Regions from separate parts of the Homo sapiens genome. Here region 2 is linked to region 1. The links come from fine-mapping of genetic effects on gene expression. Tissue or cell type: whole blood. Region 1 holds a variant in brackets; the other region holds the start of a gene. All regions are shown on one strand. Distances are from middle to middle.

The links. PIP is the estimated chance that this variant, and not a neighbour inherited with it, causes the effect.
Region 2: it holds the start of FANCA, and the variant in region 1 is fine-mapped to the expression of FANCA in whole blood (TOPMed, PIP above 0.99).

What each region holds. Positions count from the first base shown.
Region 1 is chr16:89,734,260-89,742,350 of GRCh38, forward strand. ZNF276 (zinc finger protein 276) reads left to right here. Exons shown (of 11, transcript NM_001113525.2): 10 at 3,547-3,646; 11 at 3,717-6,666. The coding sequence ends at 3,987. FANCA (FA complementation group A) reads right to left here. Exons shown (of 43, transcript NM_000135.4): 38 at 6,545-6,607; 39 at 5,735-5,840; 40 at 5,219-5,294; 41 at 4,874-5,030; 42 at 4,623-4,715; 43 at 3,290-4,449. The coding sequence ends at 4,342. Among named protein-coding and RNA genes, the nearest start is that of ZNF276, 17 kb to the left of the region's middle. RefSeq lists enhancers at 6,379-6,548, 6,791-6,960, 7,076-7,245 and a silencer at 7,379-7,579. The variant C/T (reference allele first, on the strand shown) is at 3,356.
Region 2 is chr16:89,813,391-89,821,473 of GRCh38, forward strand. It overlaps FANCA (FA complementation group A), which reads right to left and starts at 3,257. Exons shown (of 43, transcript NM_000135.4): 1 at 3,147-3,257; 2 at 2,487-2,596; 3 at 1,130-1,223. The coding sequence starts at 3,225. RefSeq lists silencers at 2,761-2,810, 3,041-3,330 and enhancers at 3,191-3,485, 3,871-3,920.

The sequences.
Region 1 (8,091 bases):
ATCTAGGCAGTTTGTCAAAACTAATAGCCAAGCAATCTTGGTGTCCTTTTGCAAATTGGTCATTTTATTTTTTAATTTTTTTTTGAGACGGAGTCCTGCTCTGTTGCCCAGGCTGGAGTGCAGTGGCACCATCTTGGCTCACCACAACCTCTGCCTCCCAGGTTCAATCAATTCTCCCGCCTCAGCCTCCCAAGTAGCTGGGATTACAGGCACCCGCAACCATGCCTGGCTAATTTTTGTAATTTTTGGTAGAGACGGGGTTTCACCATGTTGGCCAGGGTGATCTCTAACTCCTGACCTCAAGTGATCTCAGCCTTCCAAAGTGCAGAGATTACAGGTGTGAGCACTGCACCTGGCCCAAACAAGTGTATCTTAAAAGGCAAGGCAGAAGGCATGAAGGCACACCAGCTCTGGGGAGCTGCCCACGTGGACAGGCGGGAGGCACGTGTGGTTCTGCCTTTTCACATGTGTGTAGGTCGTGTCATTAAGACCGGAGGCGGATGGGGGAATTATGACTGAGGGTGCTGTCTCTGTGCCCGTCTTATTTTTCACAATTTCTATAATGCACAAGTTACTTTTATAATCCAACAAGGATATGTTTTCAAAATGACAAACTTGGCCGGGCGTGGTGGCTCACACCTGTAATCCCAGCACTTTGGGAGGCTGAGGTGGGTGGATCACCTGAGGTCAGCAGTTCAAGACCAGCCTGGCCAACATGGTAAAACCTGGTCTCTACTAAAAATACAAAAATTATCTGGGTGTGGTGGCACACGCCTGTAGGCACAGCTACTTGGGAGGCGGAGGTGGAGGTTGCAGTGAGCCGAGATCACACCACTGCACTCCAGCCTGGGCAACAGTGAGACACTGTCTCAAAAAAAAAACTTGTTTGAACCACGTGGACCCACATATCCATGGTCAGGGACTCGAATCCCTGGTATTCAGAGGGCTGCCTTTTCCTAAGTGCAGGTTCTGTAGGGTCTTTGCAGGGCTAACTTCGGGACTTCAGTATGAGCAGATTTTGGTAAGGGGTGGGGGGGGGCCTGGAACCAGCTGAGGACAACTGTATATTGATCCTTACACACACAGTTTTCCTTGGTTTTGAACTTATTACAGAATAAGAATTATTTATTCTTACTTGAATTTACTGAAGTATTTTTTCATTAGGATTGCTTTTCACTGCTGGGTCATCTCCCGACATGCGGGTTGTTATTTTTTGGGTTCTCCGACATCTCTCCTGATGGCAGCACTTCCTTGGGTTTGGTCCTTCAGACTCTGCATCTGTCCGGTCACTGATGGTCACAACCAGCAGTTCCTTAAAAACCTGAAATTGGGCCGGGTGCAGTGGCTCATGCCTGTAATCGCAGCACTTTGGAGGCTAAGGCAGTAGGATTGCTTGAGGCCAGGATTTTGACACCAGCCTGGGCAACATAGTGAGGCCGTCTTTACCAAAAACTTTTTTTTTAATTTATTGATGGAAACAGTCTCACTCTTATCACCATGGCTGGAGTGCAGTGGCGCGATCTTGGCTCACTGTAACCTCCACCTCCCTAGTTCAAGCAATTCTCCTGTCTCAGCCTCCTGAGTAGCTGGGATTACAGGCATCTGCCACCACGCCGGGGGTGTTTTTTTTTGTTTGTTTGTTTGTTTTTTTGACTGAGTCTTGCTCTTGTCGCCCAGGCTGGGGTGCAGTGGCACAATCTCAGCTCACTGCAAGCTCCTCTTCCTGGGGTAAAGCCATTCTCCTGCCTCAGCCTCCCAAATAGCTGGGACTACAGGTGCTGGCCACCACACCCAACTAATTTTTCGTATTTTCAGTACAGACGGGGTTTCACCACGTTAGTGAGGCTGGTCTCAATCTCCTGACCTTGTGATCCACCTGCCTCGGCCTCCCGAAGTGCTGGGATTATAAGCGTGAGCCATGACGCCTGGGTAATTTTTCTATTTTTAGTAGAGAGGCAGGTTTTGCTATGTTGGCCAGGCTGGTCTCGAGTTCCTGACCTCAGGTGATTTGCCTGCCTTGGCCTCCCAAAGTGCTGGGATTACAGGCATGAGCCACCGTGCCCAGCCCCCAATTTTTTTTTTTTTTTCCGGGACAGTCTGTGTCGCCCAGCCTGGAGTGCAGCTGTGCAATCTCAGCTCACTGCAACCTCCACCTCCTGGGTTCATGCAATTCTGCTGCCTCAGCCTCCCGAGTAGCTGGGACTACAGGTGTGTGCCACCACACCTGGCTAATTTTTGTATTTTTAGTAGAGACAGGGTTTTACCATATTGATTGGGCTGGGGCTGGTCTTGAACTGACTTCATGATCCGCCTGCCTTGGCCTTCCAAAGTGCTGGGATTGAGCACTTTGTGTAAGCCACTGCACCGGCCCCCCAAATTTTTTAAATTACCTGGGTGTGGTGGTGCACACCTGTGGTCCCAGCTACTTGAGAGGTTGAGGCAGGAGGATCACTTAAGCCTGGGAGTTCCAGGCTATAGTGAGCCATGATTGTACCATTGCACTTCAACCTGGGCAACAGAGCAAGACCCTGTCTCCAAAAAAAAAAAAAAAAAAAGAATCCCTTGAACCTGGGAGGTGGAGTTTCCAGTGAGCTGAGATTGGGCTGTTGCACTCCAGCCTGGGCAACAGAGCAAGACTCAAGTCTCAAAAAAAAAGAACAGCGTAGAGTAAAATGCCAAGATAGGGTTTCCCTTCGAAGAGAAAAGTCTGTCTTGTGAAGCGTTTCAGGGCTTGACAGATGTGGAGGCAGCACAGGGTGAGTGGGTCTGCATGTCCACATGTGGCATTTGTGGACTAGCAAGTGAGATCTCTTTGTTCAAGGGTGTGAGAAAGATTTCCAGAGCCAGTACAGCAATGCATACCCCCAGACCCTGGGTATGGACCCCTCTCATATGGAGATGAATTCTAGAGAACAGCCATAGCTGTGACAATCAGTATTCTATACAACCTTAGTGATACGGCTTCCTTTAAGAATTTGTAGGCCAGGCACGGTGGCTCACACATGTAATCCCAGCACTTTGGGAGACCGAGGCAGGCAGATCACAAGGTCAGGAATTCAAGACCAGCCTGGCCAATATGGTGTAAACCCTGTCTCTACTAAAAATACAAAAATCAGCTGGGCGTGGTGGGGGGCGCCTGTAATCCCAGCTACTTGGCAGGCTGAGGCACAAGAATCGCTTGAGCCTGGGAGGCGCAGGTTGCAGTGAGCTGAGATCACGCCACCGCACTGCAGCCTGGGTAACAGAGCGAAACTCCATCTCAAAAAAAAAAAAAGACAAGAATCTGTGGTTAAGGAAATAGCTTTCTGAGGTTTCTTTAAAAACCATCCTGAAATGCACACAGCTGATGAAGCCA[C/T]GTGACAGTGTATAAAGCAGTTTAAAGATCTTAATAAACGAGGCCCTCATAGGCCCCTTGCTTGGGCCCACTGCATGGTGAACCATGTGCAGAAATGTCTTCCCAGCTGTGATGGTTTCACATTGTCATCGTCGTCCCCCCGGGAGGTTGGAGCATCAGGGGCCTGGACTCACTGGACTCTCCCCTCTCAGAGGTGCGGAACTATATCTGTGACGAATGTGGACAAACCTTCAAGCAGCGGAAGCACCTTCTCGTCCACCAAATGCGACATTCGGGAGCCAAGCCTTTGCAGTAAGTGTGAGTCAGGACCCCCTCCCAGGGCTGTGGCCCTCGCACCTTCTTATCTGCCTCTGTCCCCCAGGTGTGAGGTCTGTGGGTTCCAGTGCAGGCAGCGGGCATCCCTCAAGTACCACATGACCAAACACAAGGCTGAGACTGAGCTGGACTTTGCCTGTGACCAGTGTGGCCGGCGGTTTGAGAAGGCCCACAACCTCAATGTACACATGTCCATGGTGCACCCGCTGACACAGACCCAGGACAAGGCCCTGCCCCTGGAGGCGGAACCACCACCTGGGCCACCGAGCCCCTCTGTGACCACAGAGGGCCAGGCGGTGAAGCCCGAACCCACCTGAGGACGGCAGTGAGGATGAGCACCTCTAGCAGCCTGGACTCCGCAGTGGCTGTGTCAGCCTCACCCTTCGTGTGCACCCGCATGGGAGGGTCGGAGGGTGCTGCCCGCCCTTGGTGCTGGAGGCGGGCTTGGTGTCCGGCTCAAGTAGCCTTCCTCTGCTCTGGGACCAGTGGTTTATTTTCCCGCAAACGCTGAGTGACTCGGGGCCGGACAGTTCATAAATAATTGATTCCTTTCCCCACTAAAGCAGTCGAGGAGATTTGTAATCCACTTTTTAGTGCAACAAGAGCTCCATGTTATGCTTGTAATAAATTATTTACACGGGAGCTGGGCTGGTGTGCAGTGGCAGGTCCCGTCAGAAGAGATGAGGCTCCTGGGACAGGTCAGCGTCAGGGGCAGCCTGCTGTCTGCTCTGGAGGGCGGCGCTCACCTCTGGGTCGCAGTCCCCACGATCAGCCAGCAGCTGTGAGAGAGGAGCAGGTCCTCAGCCCATGCCGCCCACTAGGCCTCAGACCACAGGGGAGGGGCTCTGGCAGAAATAGTCGAGTTGTATTGCCAGCCAGGCAGGCACATGGCCCAGGCAGCTGTCAATTCTCATGTCCCCCACATGGCCCAAGGTGGGCATCTTGACGTTACCTCTGCCACGTGTGAGAAGCTCTTTTTCGGGCACCGAGGTATTAACTGCAGCAGAAAAAGACGAGCTTTTGTTATCAGTTCCACGGGGTTGCCCTAGAGAGAAAACAGGCAAACTCACAGGTTAGAAGACATACAGAAACAGGGCTGGTGTGTCCCCCATAGTCTGCATGCTGTGCCGGAACATTCTTTGGCAGAAGGAGCCTCCGGCTGGGGGGAGCTCCCCTGGAGGTGGGACTGGCCCTTGCACCTGCCTGACCCTTGAGCTCCAGGCTCCTGCCAGCTGGAGGTGAAACTGTGCTTGTATCCCCAGCCACGAAGAGCTGGACCAGCTTCAAGTACATGTCCACAGCAACATGCAGGAAGGCCTCTTCCCTGATGGCCGCGTCTTCATGGAAGTAGGAGAGAAGACTAGAGGTAAAGACATAGTGACAAATGGCTACAGACTGCTGGAAAGGTAGCAGGTGATGCCAAGGGATACTGCTCATCTGTGGAGCAGAGGCACAGACAACCCTTCCCATCTGGCGGGACCCAGAGGTGCTGAGATGGGGGTCTGGGAAACACTGCCCAGCCCTGACCAGCCCTGTGGGTGGAGGTACCTGTAAAAAGCGAAAGGCAGCAGCCTGGTGTGCTGATCCGGGGCCACACGGAGGAGGAGCCGCCCCAGCCTGAGGTCTGCAACACCAAGAAGTGGCTCAGGCAACTCTGGACATCTCTGCCTATTATCAGTGCTGGGGACACCCCTGGGGGTCGGGACGTGTACCCTGGGAGGCCTGGCTGTGGGGATAGTGTGGGGCGAACAGCCTGAGCTGAGGATACCCAGGTACCTGTCAGCAGCTGGGAGAGGATGGGGGGGTCGACCTCTTGCAGGAGGGTGGGTGTGGTGCAGAGAGAGGCAGTCCCCATGATAGGCCCATTGGTCCTGGGGTTGACCAGTGAGCCAGTAAATTATCTTATTGCTTTAAACAAGTTTGTGCTTAATCTGTCCCAACTAAAATGGAGCTTATAAACTTACTTAGCAAGGAACCTCAAGGAGGGCTCGTTCTTAACCATTTGCAAGATGCCTCTGAAAAGAGCGGCCCTCCGCATTTGTGCCTCAGCAGCGTGTTTCTTACCACTCTCTGTCAACTGAAAGAGTGCCAGCCAGGATATCTTCCTCTTCTCTAAACACTCGAGGATTGCTGCACAAACGTGGAAAGCCTTTGGCAGGTCTGTGGTGCTCTGTAAACCGCAGGAGACCAACCCTGAGAATGGCCGACCTGGTGCTCCCATGGGTAGGAGGGTACAGCCCTCAGCACAGAAGAGGGCATTTCCTCTTTGCTTATTGTAAGTCTTAAAACTGGTGACAGTTTTACCTATAGAAGGTAATACTGGGCCTCTGGACAGAAGAGGCTCAGGTAGGAGGCCAGGGACTTCGAGCACCCACACCAAGGCTGCTGCACCACGTCCTCAAATAAGACATTAAAAGAAAGGCCCACAGGCCGGATGCAGTGGCTCATGCCTGTAATCCCAACACTTTGGGAGGCCGAGGTCGGCGGATCACTGAGGCCAGTTCAAGACCAGCCTGGCAATATGGTGAAACCCCGTCTCTACTAAAAATACAAAAATTAGCCGGGTGTGACAGACTCACGCCTGTAATCCCAGCTACTCGGGAGGCTGATGCAGGAGAATTGCTTGAACCCAGGAGGCTGAGGTTGCAGTGAGCTGAGATCACACCACTGCACTCCAGCCTGGGTGACAGAGTGAGACCCCCATCTCAAAAAAAAAAAAAAAAAACCCACGGCCTGGGAGTTCTCACTCACACTTCCGCAAACACAAGGAGCTCCTGAGCTAGTCTGGAAACCCTGACTTGGAAGCTGGCTGCCTGGTGCCCCTGCCTGGCCCACAGTGGGAGAGGACACCTTGGCTGGTAAGGTCTGACTTACATTTGAGGTCAGATGTGACGACAGCAGGCCCATCAAGGAGAAGAAGAAAAGGAAAACCAATAGCTGTAAATAAAAACGTGCACTTATTATTACATTAAAATTACCTGTGCTGTCATTCTAAATAAGGCTGACACATTCCTCTTTAATTGAAATTTTTTACATCTAGGCCATAAATCCTTTAAGTGGATCTTAGAAAACTTTCCAATCACTTCTAGAGAGACAGCTTAATTGAGAATTAATTACTACTGGCTGGGTCATTTCACACTTGCCTTTAAACAAAGCTAGAAACAGTTTGAAAAAGTGACAAGAGCCAGAAAGAGAAGACTGCTGCGGTCTCCTTGGCTGTGCGCAGTCCCAACTCAGCATCATCTCCCTGCAAGGCCTCCTGTCAGAAGTGTTTGTAAAATCCTTGAAGATAAGCCCACAGGCTCCAGCCTAAAGTAGGGCCTGACTGGGCAGGGTCTCTGTGGACACTCCTCGCTGCACACTAGGGTCCTAAGGCCCTGGAGCCACTAAAATCCCTTCTAACAAAACTACACAAGAAACCTGAAGACGTACTCAGAAGAACCCCTGCAGGGTGGTTATAATCACCAAAACCCTGGGCGCTGCTGTCGATCCAGCTTTGAGCTGGTGTAAGTTGTGTGCTGACATGGCACCTATGCGTTGCGGATCTCGGGCTGGGCACAGAGGGCTGCTGCCTCCAGCTCTCTTGTGGGATGCTTGTTTCTGTTCCTGTTCTGCACACACCACCCTTGGCTCCCTGCACAGAGAGCTGTGTGGGTGTCACTGGTCTTGTGGGGGCAGTCAGGCTTTCCAGGGTGCAGCAACCAGGTGGGCAGTGGGTCTGAGTCGAACATGGTCCCTGGCCTGGAATTCAAGAGCAGCCTCTCCCACTCCTTTCCCTATGCCTATGGCTGCAGACGGTCCCATCCTTGCTGCCTCTTGTCCCCAGCACCCCAGGTCTGAGCTGTCTCACTGCAAGCTTATCTGGGGCTGTCCCTCAGCACATGAATCAAGGCTACTGCAGCATGAACACAGAAGGCACCACTTGAAGGCTGACAGCATTTACGCTGGGCTGTGATGAGGATAAAAATAAGCTGAAGAAACGCACTTCAAGCCTGGGCAACACAGTGAGACCCCCATCTCTTTTAATTTTTACTTTAAACAAATTTTTTTTTTTTGAGACAAGTCTCGCTCTGTCACCCAGACTGCAGGGCAGTGGCGTGATCTTGGCTCACTGCAGCCTCTGCCCCCTGGGTTCAAGTGATCCTCCTGCCTCAGCCTCCTGAGTAGCTTTACAGGCTATGGGATTGTAGGTGCGCACCACCACACCCGACTAATTTTTGTGTTTTTAGTAGAGACAGGGTTTCACCATGTTGCCCAAGCTGGTCTCAAACTCCTGACACCAAGTGATCCGCCTGCCTCGGCCTCCCTAAGTGTTGGGATTACAGGCATGAGCCACCATGCCTGGACTACAGACCCCCATCTCAGAAAAAATTACAAAATTAGCCGGGCATGGTGGCACACACCTGTAGTCTGAGCTACTC
Region 2 (8,083 bases), 79 kb after region 1:
GAGTGAGACCCTGTCTGTTAAAAAAAAAAAAAAAAGTAGACAATGCCATTTTCTGTTCTGAGACAGAGTTTTGCTCTTATTGCCCAGGCTGGAGTGCAATGGAGGGGTCTCGGCTCAATGCAACCTCTGCCTCCCACGTTCAAGCAATTCTCCTGCCTCAGCCTCCTGAATAGCTGGGACTACAGGCACCCACCACCACACCCGGCTAATTTTTGTGTTTTTTAGTAGAGACAGGGTTTCACCATGTTGGCCAGGCTCGTCTCGAATCCTGACCTCAGGTGATCCGCACACCTCAGCCTCCCAAAGTGCTGCGATTATAGGCGTGAGCCACTGTGCCAGGCCAACAATGCCAATTTCTAGTCATTTGTTTCCAATGTGTCTCCATAGGAAAGTTTTTTTATCTACAAGTCTTTTACTGTGTGTGTGTGTGTGTGTGTGTGTGTCCGTGTGCACGTGCGTGCATGTACTAACTATATCTTTAGCAGAAAAAAACAAACTCAAAAATTAATGAATTAAAGGTTTATCTGTGTGGCTGAGCTTGGTTCCTTGGAATGATAATATGCAATTTGTGAAATTCAAATACAATCATGGCAGTGAAAATCTGTATCATTTGCCAATGACATTCAGTGACCAGTTGTCAAGGGAGCGCTATTACTGAAGGTTATTTTAACAGAAACAAGTCATCACATAAGGACGTGAAGGATCAGAAAATAACTTACTGTTGTTGACCCAGAACTTACCCTATCTCCCACTCTCAAACTGGGGGGAGAAGGAGGTACCTAGAAAATTGTTCTCCCGTCTGCTCTCCTGGGCACACCACAGCCTGTCTCACTACTTCCATGAGCAAGGGGCACATCCCTGCTGTTGCTATGTCCCATGTTTTTCCAAGGGACACTCTGGGTCCTACTGCTTCTGAGTCGCAGGTTGAATCAGACGCTGTTTTTAAACACAGCATCGTAAGAAGCCCAAGAGCAAGTCACACAAACATCCCATAGAATTTGCGACTACACACACCAGTGGAAACCCATCGCCTGAGAAAATTTACATTTCTACTTAATTTAGCAAACTATGGTTACTATATAAAAACCCTTCTGCAATTCAAAATAGAGAAAATGAAGCTATAACTTACCTATAAATGAACTAGAATGATTAGCATAGGCCTCAGAACTGTCACAGTCAATCACTTTGCTGAGAGACAATTTTTTACACAGTGGACCTTCTACCTAGAATCCAAAACACAACAAACTCCATTTAAAAAATTCAAGCTCCAGGCCAGGCGTAGTGGCTCACGCCTGTAATCCCAGTACTTTGGGAGGCCGAGATGGGCAGATCACGAGGTCAAGAGTTCGAGACCAGCCTGGCCAACATAGTGAAACCCTGTCTCTACTAAAAATACAAAAATTAGGAGGGCATGGTGGCGCGTGCCTGTAGTCCCAGCCACTCGGGAGGCTGAGACGGGAGAATCACTTAAACCCGGGAGGTGGAGGCTGCAGTGAGCCGAGATCACCCCACTGCATACCAGCCCAGGCTACAGTGTGAGACTTTGTCTCAAAAAAAATAAATGAAAATAAAAAATAAAAATAAAAAAAATTCAAGATCTGTGCATAAACACAACCTGTGTGTAAGTAATGCTTCCCTACTGGGCTATTTTCCTTTTTTTCTTTTTTGAGAGGGAGTCTCACTGTCGTCCAGGCTGGAGTGCAATGGCGGGATCTCACTCACGGCGACCTCCACCTCCCAGGTTCAAGCGATTCTCCTGCCTCAGCCTCCTGAGCAGCTGGGATTACAGACACCTGCTACCATACCCGGCTAATTTTTGTATTTTAAGTAGTGACGGGGTTTCACCATGTTGGTCAGGCTGGTCTCGAACTCCTAACCTCAAGTGATCTACCCACTTCGGCCTCCCAAAGGGCTAGGATTACAGGCGTGAGCCACCACGCCCGGCTTTTTTTTTTTTTTTTTTTTTTTTTTTTTTTGTGAGACAGTCTCACTCTGTAATCCAGACTGGATTGCAAGGGGCGTGATCTCGGCTCACTGCAATTTCTGCCTCCCGGGTCCAGGTTCAAGCAATTCTCCTGCCTCAGGCTCCCGAGTAGCTGGGATTAAAGGCGTGCGCCACCACACCCAGCTAATTTTTGTATTTTCAGTAGAGACCGGGTTTCACTATGTTGGCCAGGCTGGTCTCGAACTCCTGACCCTGAGTGATCCACCCGCCTTGGCCTCCCCAAAAGCTGGGATTACAGCCCTGAGCCACGGCGCCCGGCCTGTTTTTTTGTTGTTGTTGTTTTGTTTTTAATAAAAGAGGCGGGGTCTCACCCCGTTGCCCAGGTTGGTCCAGAACTCCCGGGCTCAGGCGACCCTCCCCTCTGCGGGCCAGGCCACCGCGCCCGCCGCCTCGGGTGTTTTCTTAGGAAAGCTGTGCGGTGGCTGGACTCAAAAACCCCGAACCTAAATCTGCCCGCAGACGGACACCAGCTTCCTCTTACCTCAAGCAAAAGGGCATTCAGGTCCTGATGGCTTCGCAGGAGGCGCACAGCTGATTCCTTTAATTTCTGTGCCCTTTCAGGATTATATTTTTCCCTCTTGACCCTTCCCGCTACGGAGAGAAGTCGGTTCGAAACCATCACAGCACAATTCACACACGGGGTCCCCGGCCCGACGCGCAGGTGGACGCCGCGGAGAAACCCACCAGCGACACCCTCCCGAAGAGGGGCCGGGGCTCCTCCCCAGGGCGCAGGTCTCGGGAAACTAACGGAGACGGCCCCACCGCGGACGCCGGGGAAGACGGCCCAGGAGGGCCCGAGGCAGGGGAGCCCGGGGACGGCTGGCGAGGGGCGGCCTCTGCGCTGAGGGGAGCCCCAGGCCGCGCACCCCAGGCCCGCCTGACAGGGCGGCCGGCGGGGGCGGCGTTCGGGAAAGAAGGGAGCGCCCCGCGGGCGGCGGCTGGGGGCGTCCGCCCAGGCGCAGGAGGGGCCGGGTCCGAGGCAGCCGCGCCGCCCCAGCCGGGCGCCCACCCCGCACAGCCCCCCGGGCGCGGCGTCCGGGGATCCGACCGGCGGAGGCTCTGGCGGGAAGGGATCGGGGAACCGGCGAAACCGTCCCGGGCCGGACGCCGCCCACTCCCGCGGCCTGCCGCGCCCACCTACCCAGCAGCTCGGCCCAGGCCCTCCGGCGGCCCCCTGGGTCCTGGCCCGAGGCGGAGTTCGGGACCCACGAGTCGGACATGGCCTTGGCGCCTACAGCCCCGGCGGCGGCTCCCTGCGCCCGAGCCCGCGCTGCCTTCCTATTGGCTGCGGCCAGGCGCGCACACCCGTTGGCTGGCGGCGGCCAGGCCACGCCCCTCAGGTCGAGGCCTTGCGTCGTGGCCATGTTGGTCCTGGGGGAGGCGCCTGCGCGCGGTGAGGTAGTTTTTGCGTTTGGCTTTGCCGCCGCGGTGTAGTCCGCGGGGGCGTCTCGCGCGGGCAGACTGCCGCCCCTCAAGCGTGGTTCCTGCCGGGAATGACTGGGGTTGGTCCTGAAGAGACCACCTGGCCAACCAAGCCGAGGCAGGCTCAGAGCGCCGCGGGGAGCGCAAAGCCGCGCGCGCCTCTGAGCTCCGGGCAGCCGCTGTTCCTCCCGGCGGCCGAACGGTCCGCGCGCAGGGCGGTGTTTCGGCAGCCGGAGACCGCGCGGTAGCCGCGCCTGTATTCCCAGCGCTTTGGGAGGCCGAGGCTGGAGGGTCGCTTGAGCCCAGGAATTCCAGACTAGCCTGGGCAACAGAGCGAGACCCCATCACTTTTGTTTCTTTTCTTTTTTTTTTTTTTCCTTTTTTTGAGACGGAGTCTCCCTCTGTCGCCCAGGCTGGAGTGCAGTGGCGCGATCTCGGCTCACTGCAACGTCTGCCTCCTGGGTTCAGGTGATTCTCCTGCCTCAGCCTCCCGAGTAGCTGGGATTGCAGGTGCGCGCCACCACGCCTGGATGATTTTTGTTATTTTTAGTAGAGACAGCGTTTCGCCATGTTGGCCCAGGCTAGTCTCGAACTCCGGACCTCAGGTGATCCGCCCGCCTCGGCCTCCCAAAGTGCTGGGATTACAGGCGTGAGCCACCGCACCCGGCTGAGACCCTATCTTTTAACCAGCCTGGGCGGCAGAGCGAGACTCTGTCTCAAAACAAAACCAAACATAAGAATTCGTAAAAGCGAGTGCCTAGGCGAAGCTAATGTGCCTCAAAGTCCTGGGTAAGTAGAGGCCCTGGAGACCCGTCCGCATCCTCTGGCAGTGGCCTTGGAACCACCGAAGGGATTCAGCCGAAGGGCCGCGTTCCCGGCAGGCGTCTTTATTGTGTTGATTACGTAGATGGCGTAGATGACGTAGATGACGTTCAGCACCACAAACGAAGAGCCGAGGCACAGAGTGGGGCCTTGGATTCATGAGATGGGGATGGAGCAGAAATGAGAATTCGGAGTCCATGAAACCCCCACAAAGACTCCTGCACGGCCCGACTCGGACACTTTGCAATCTGCTGGTTGAGGGGGATGGTGTGAACTCAGGGAACAGCCTGAGATCGCGCCGCTGCACTCCAGCCTGGGCAACAGAGCAAGACCCTGTTTCAAAAACAAAAAATAACACTAAGCAATTAACAGGACTAGACTCAGAGGTGATCGAGAAATTGAAACAGGCTGGAAATTTAAATTAACTGTGATTAATATGTGGAGGTCTCTTGTACGAAAGGTGAACAATATGCATGAGGAGGAAACTCATCAAATTATAAGAAAGGAAGAACGCTGATAACAGGTAATTTTTCTGATGGGGCAGCAGTAGGATCAACACAGCTGAGAAAAATAGGAATTACCCACGTTGGAAAATAAAGAAGAAAAAAAGTTTTTTTTTAAAAAAAGCATCCAAGAACTGTGGGAAAATATCAAATGATATCATATGCATGTAATAGGACTCCCAAAAGAAGAAGAAAGAACAAATCATAAAAAATGTTTGAAGAGAAAATTACCAATAATTTTCCCAAAATAATGAAAGACCTGAGCTCAGAGCACACACAAAACTTGATAAATATGAGCCCCTGCCTGACACATGCAGTGTATTCAAACTGTGGAAATCAGAGAGAAAACCATGAAGATGGCCGGAGGAAAAAGATACGTTAAATACAGTAACAAAGGTAAGAATTCCAGCCTGGGCAATATGGCAAGACCTCGTCTCTACAAAAAATACAAAATTTTTTTTTTGTATTTTTTGTATTGCCCAGTGTGGTGACACGAGCCTGTAGTCCTGTGGGCGGAGAATTACCCAGGTGCCGAGGCAAGAGACCGAAGGCACAAACTATTTCAGTATAATAAAATCGTTACAATAAGAACAGTCATAATACAAATTATGGAGATGATCATGGACAATTATCAATTATTATAAACATTAATCATTAGCTTTTAATATTACTGTTTGTTGCATTACTAATATAACCTAGGAATAACCGGTGGGTATAGGGTCAGGTGCTGAAAGGACATTGTGAGAAGTGAGTGGAAGGCAAGAGGTGAACCTTCTGTCATGCCCGCATAAGGGCCGCTTGAGGGCTCCTTGGTCAAGCGGTAACGCCAGTGTCTGGGAAGGCACCCGTTACTTAGCAGACCATGAAAGGGAGTCTCCTTTGCTTGGAGGAGTCAGGGAACACTCTGCTCCACCAGCTTCTTGTGGGAGGCTGGATGTTATCCAGGCCTGCACGCAGTCATCCGGAGGCCTAAACCCCTCCCTGTGGTGCTTCACTGGTCACGCTCCTTGTCCACTTTCATGTTCCTCCCTTACTTCTGGTTCGTCTTTGAAGTTCGTAGTAGATAGCGGTAGAAGAAATAGTGAAAGTCTTAAAGTCTTTGATCTTTCTTATAAGTGCAGAGAAGAAAATGCTGACGTATGCTGCCTTCTTTCTCTGCTTCACCTACCTGAAAGGGAAGGGCCCCCATCCTGTAATCACGTGACATGCTTCACCTTGTCAATCACTTAGAAGATTCACCTTCCTTACGCTGCCCCCTTGTCATGTATGCAATAGATATCAAAGAGCCTAGCCGTTCGGGGCCGCTACCAGTCTCCGCGTCTTGATGGTAGTGGTCCCCGGGGCCCAGCTGTTTTCTCTTTATTTCTTGGTCTTGTGTCTTTATTTATTACAATCTCTCTTCTCCGTACATGGGGAGAACACCCACTAAGCCCCATAGGGCTGGACCCTACATAGTCCCAGCTACTTGGGAGGCTGAGGTGAGAGGATCACTTGAGCCCAGGAGGCTGAGGCTGCAGGGAGCCACCATCACGCCACTGCACTCCAGCCTGGATGACAGAGTGACACCCTGTCTCAAAAAAAAAAAAAAGGCAGGGGTGCTGGGCACGGTGTCTCACACTTGTAATCCCAGCATTTTGGGGGGCCGAGGCCGGTGGATCACCTGAGGTCAGGAGTTTGAGACTAGCCTGGCCAACATGGTGAAATCTCATCTCTACTAAAAACACAAAAATTGGCCAGGTGTGGTGGCTCATGCCTGTAATCCCAGCACTTTGGGAGGCCAAGGCAGGCAGATCACCTGAGGTCAGGAGTTCAAGACCAGCCTGACGAACATGGAGAAACCCCGTCTCTACTAAAAATACAAAATCAGCCAGGTGTGGTGGTGCATGCCTGTAATCCCAGCTACTCGGGAGGCTGAGGCAGGAGAATCGCCTGAACCCAGGAGGCGAAGGTTGCAGTAAACCAAGATTGCGCCACTGCACTCCAGCCTGGGCAACTAGAGCAAAACTCTTGTCTTGGCCCGGCGCAGTGGCTCACGCCTGTAATCCCAGCACTTTGGGAGGCTGAGGCAGGCGGGTCACCTGAGAGCAGGAGTTCGAGACCAGCTTGGACAACATGGTGAAACCCCATCTCTACCAAAACTACAAAAATTAGCCGGGTGTGGTGGCAGGTGCATGTAATTCCAGCTACTCAGGAGGCTGAGGCGGGAGATTTGCTTGAACCCAGGAGGCGGAGCTTGCAGTGAGCTGAGATCGTGCCACTGCACTCCAGCCTGGGTGACAGAGCGACACTCCGTCTCAAAAAAAAGATAATTTTCTGTCTAGGACAAGTGGGGTGGCTCATGACTGTAATCCCAGCGCTTTGGGAGGCTGAGGTGGGTAGATCACCTGAGGTCAGGAGTTCGAATTTGGCCTGGCCAACATGGTGAAACCACATCTCTACTAAAAATACAAAATTAGCCGGGCGTGGTGACCAGTGCCTGTAATCGCAGCTACTTGGGAGGCTGAGGCTGGAGAATCACTTGAACCCAGGAGATGTAGGTTGCAGTGAGCCGAGATCATGCCAACTACAGCCTGGGCGACAGATTGAGACTCTGTCTCAAAAAAAAAAAAAAAAGCGTATGGTGGCGCGCGCCTGTAATCCCAGCACTTTGGGAGGCCGAGGTGGGCAGATTACCTGAAGTCAGGAGTTTGAGACCAGCGTCCCCAACATGGAGAAACCTGGTCTCTACTAAAAATACAAAAAATGAGCCGGCTGTGGTGGTGGGCACCTGTAATCCCAGCTTCTGGGGAGGCTGAGACAGGAGAATCGCTTCAGCCTGGGAGGCAAACCTTGCAGTGAACTGAGATCATGACACTGCACTCCAGCCTGGGCGACAAGAGCAAAACTCCCTCTCGAAAAGAAAAGAAAAGAAAAGAAAAGTTCATCTGTCCTTTGATCTGGCACATCTTTTATAATGGCCTGTTCTGCCTCTGCCTTGTCACTGAGCAGTGTGGGGAGAATTATGCCCATGAGTTGTGAGGAACTTCTGCATTCTTTTTTTTTTTTTTTTTTAAGATGGAGTCTCACTCTGTTGCCCAGGCTGGACTGCAGTGGCATGATCTTGGCTCACTGCAACCACTGCCTTCCAGGTTCAAGCGATTCTCCCGCCTCAGCCTCCCGAGTAGCTGGGATTACAGGTGCCTGCCACCACGCCTGTCTAATTTTTGTATTTTTAGTAGAGACAGGGTTTTGCCATGTTGGCCAGGCTGGTCTCAAACTCCTGACCTCAGGTGATCCGCCCGCCTCGGCCTCCCAAAGTGCTGGGATTACAGGCGTGCGCCACCGCGCCTGG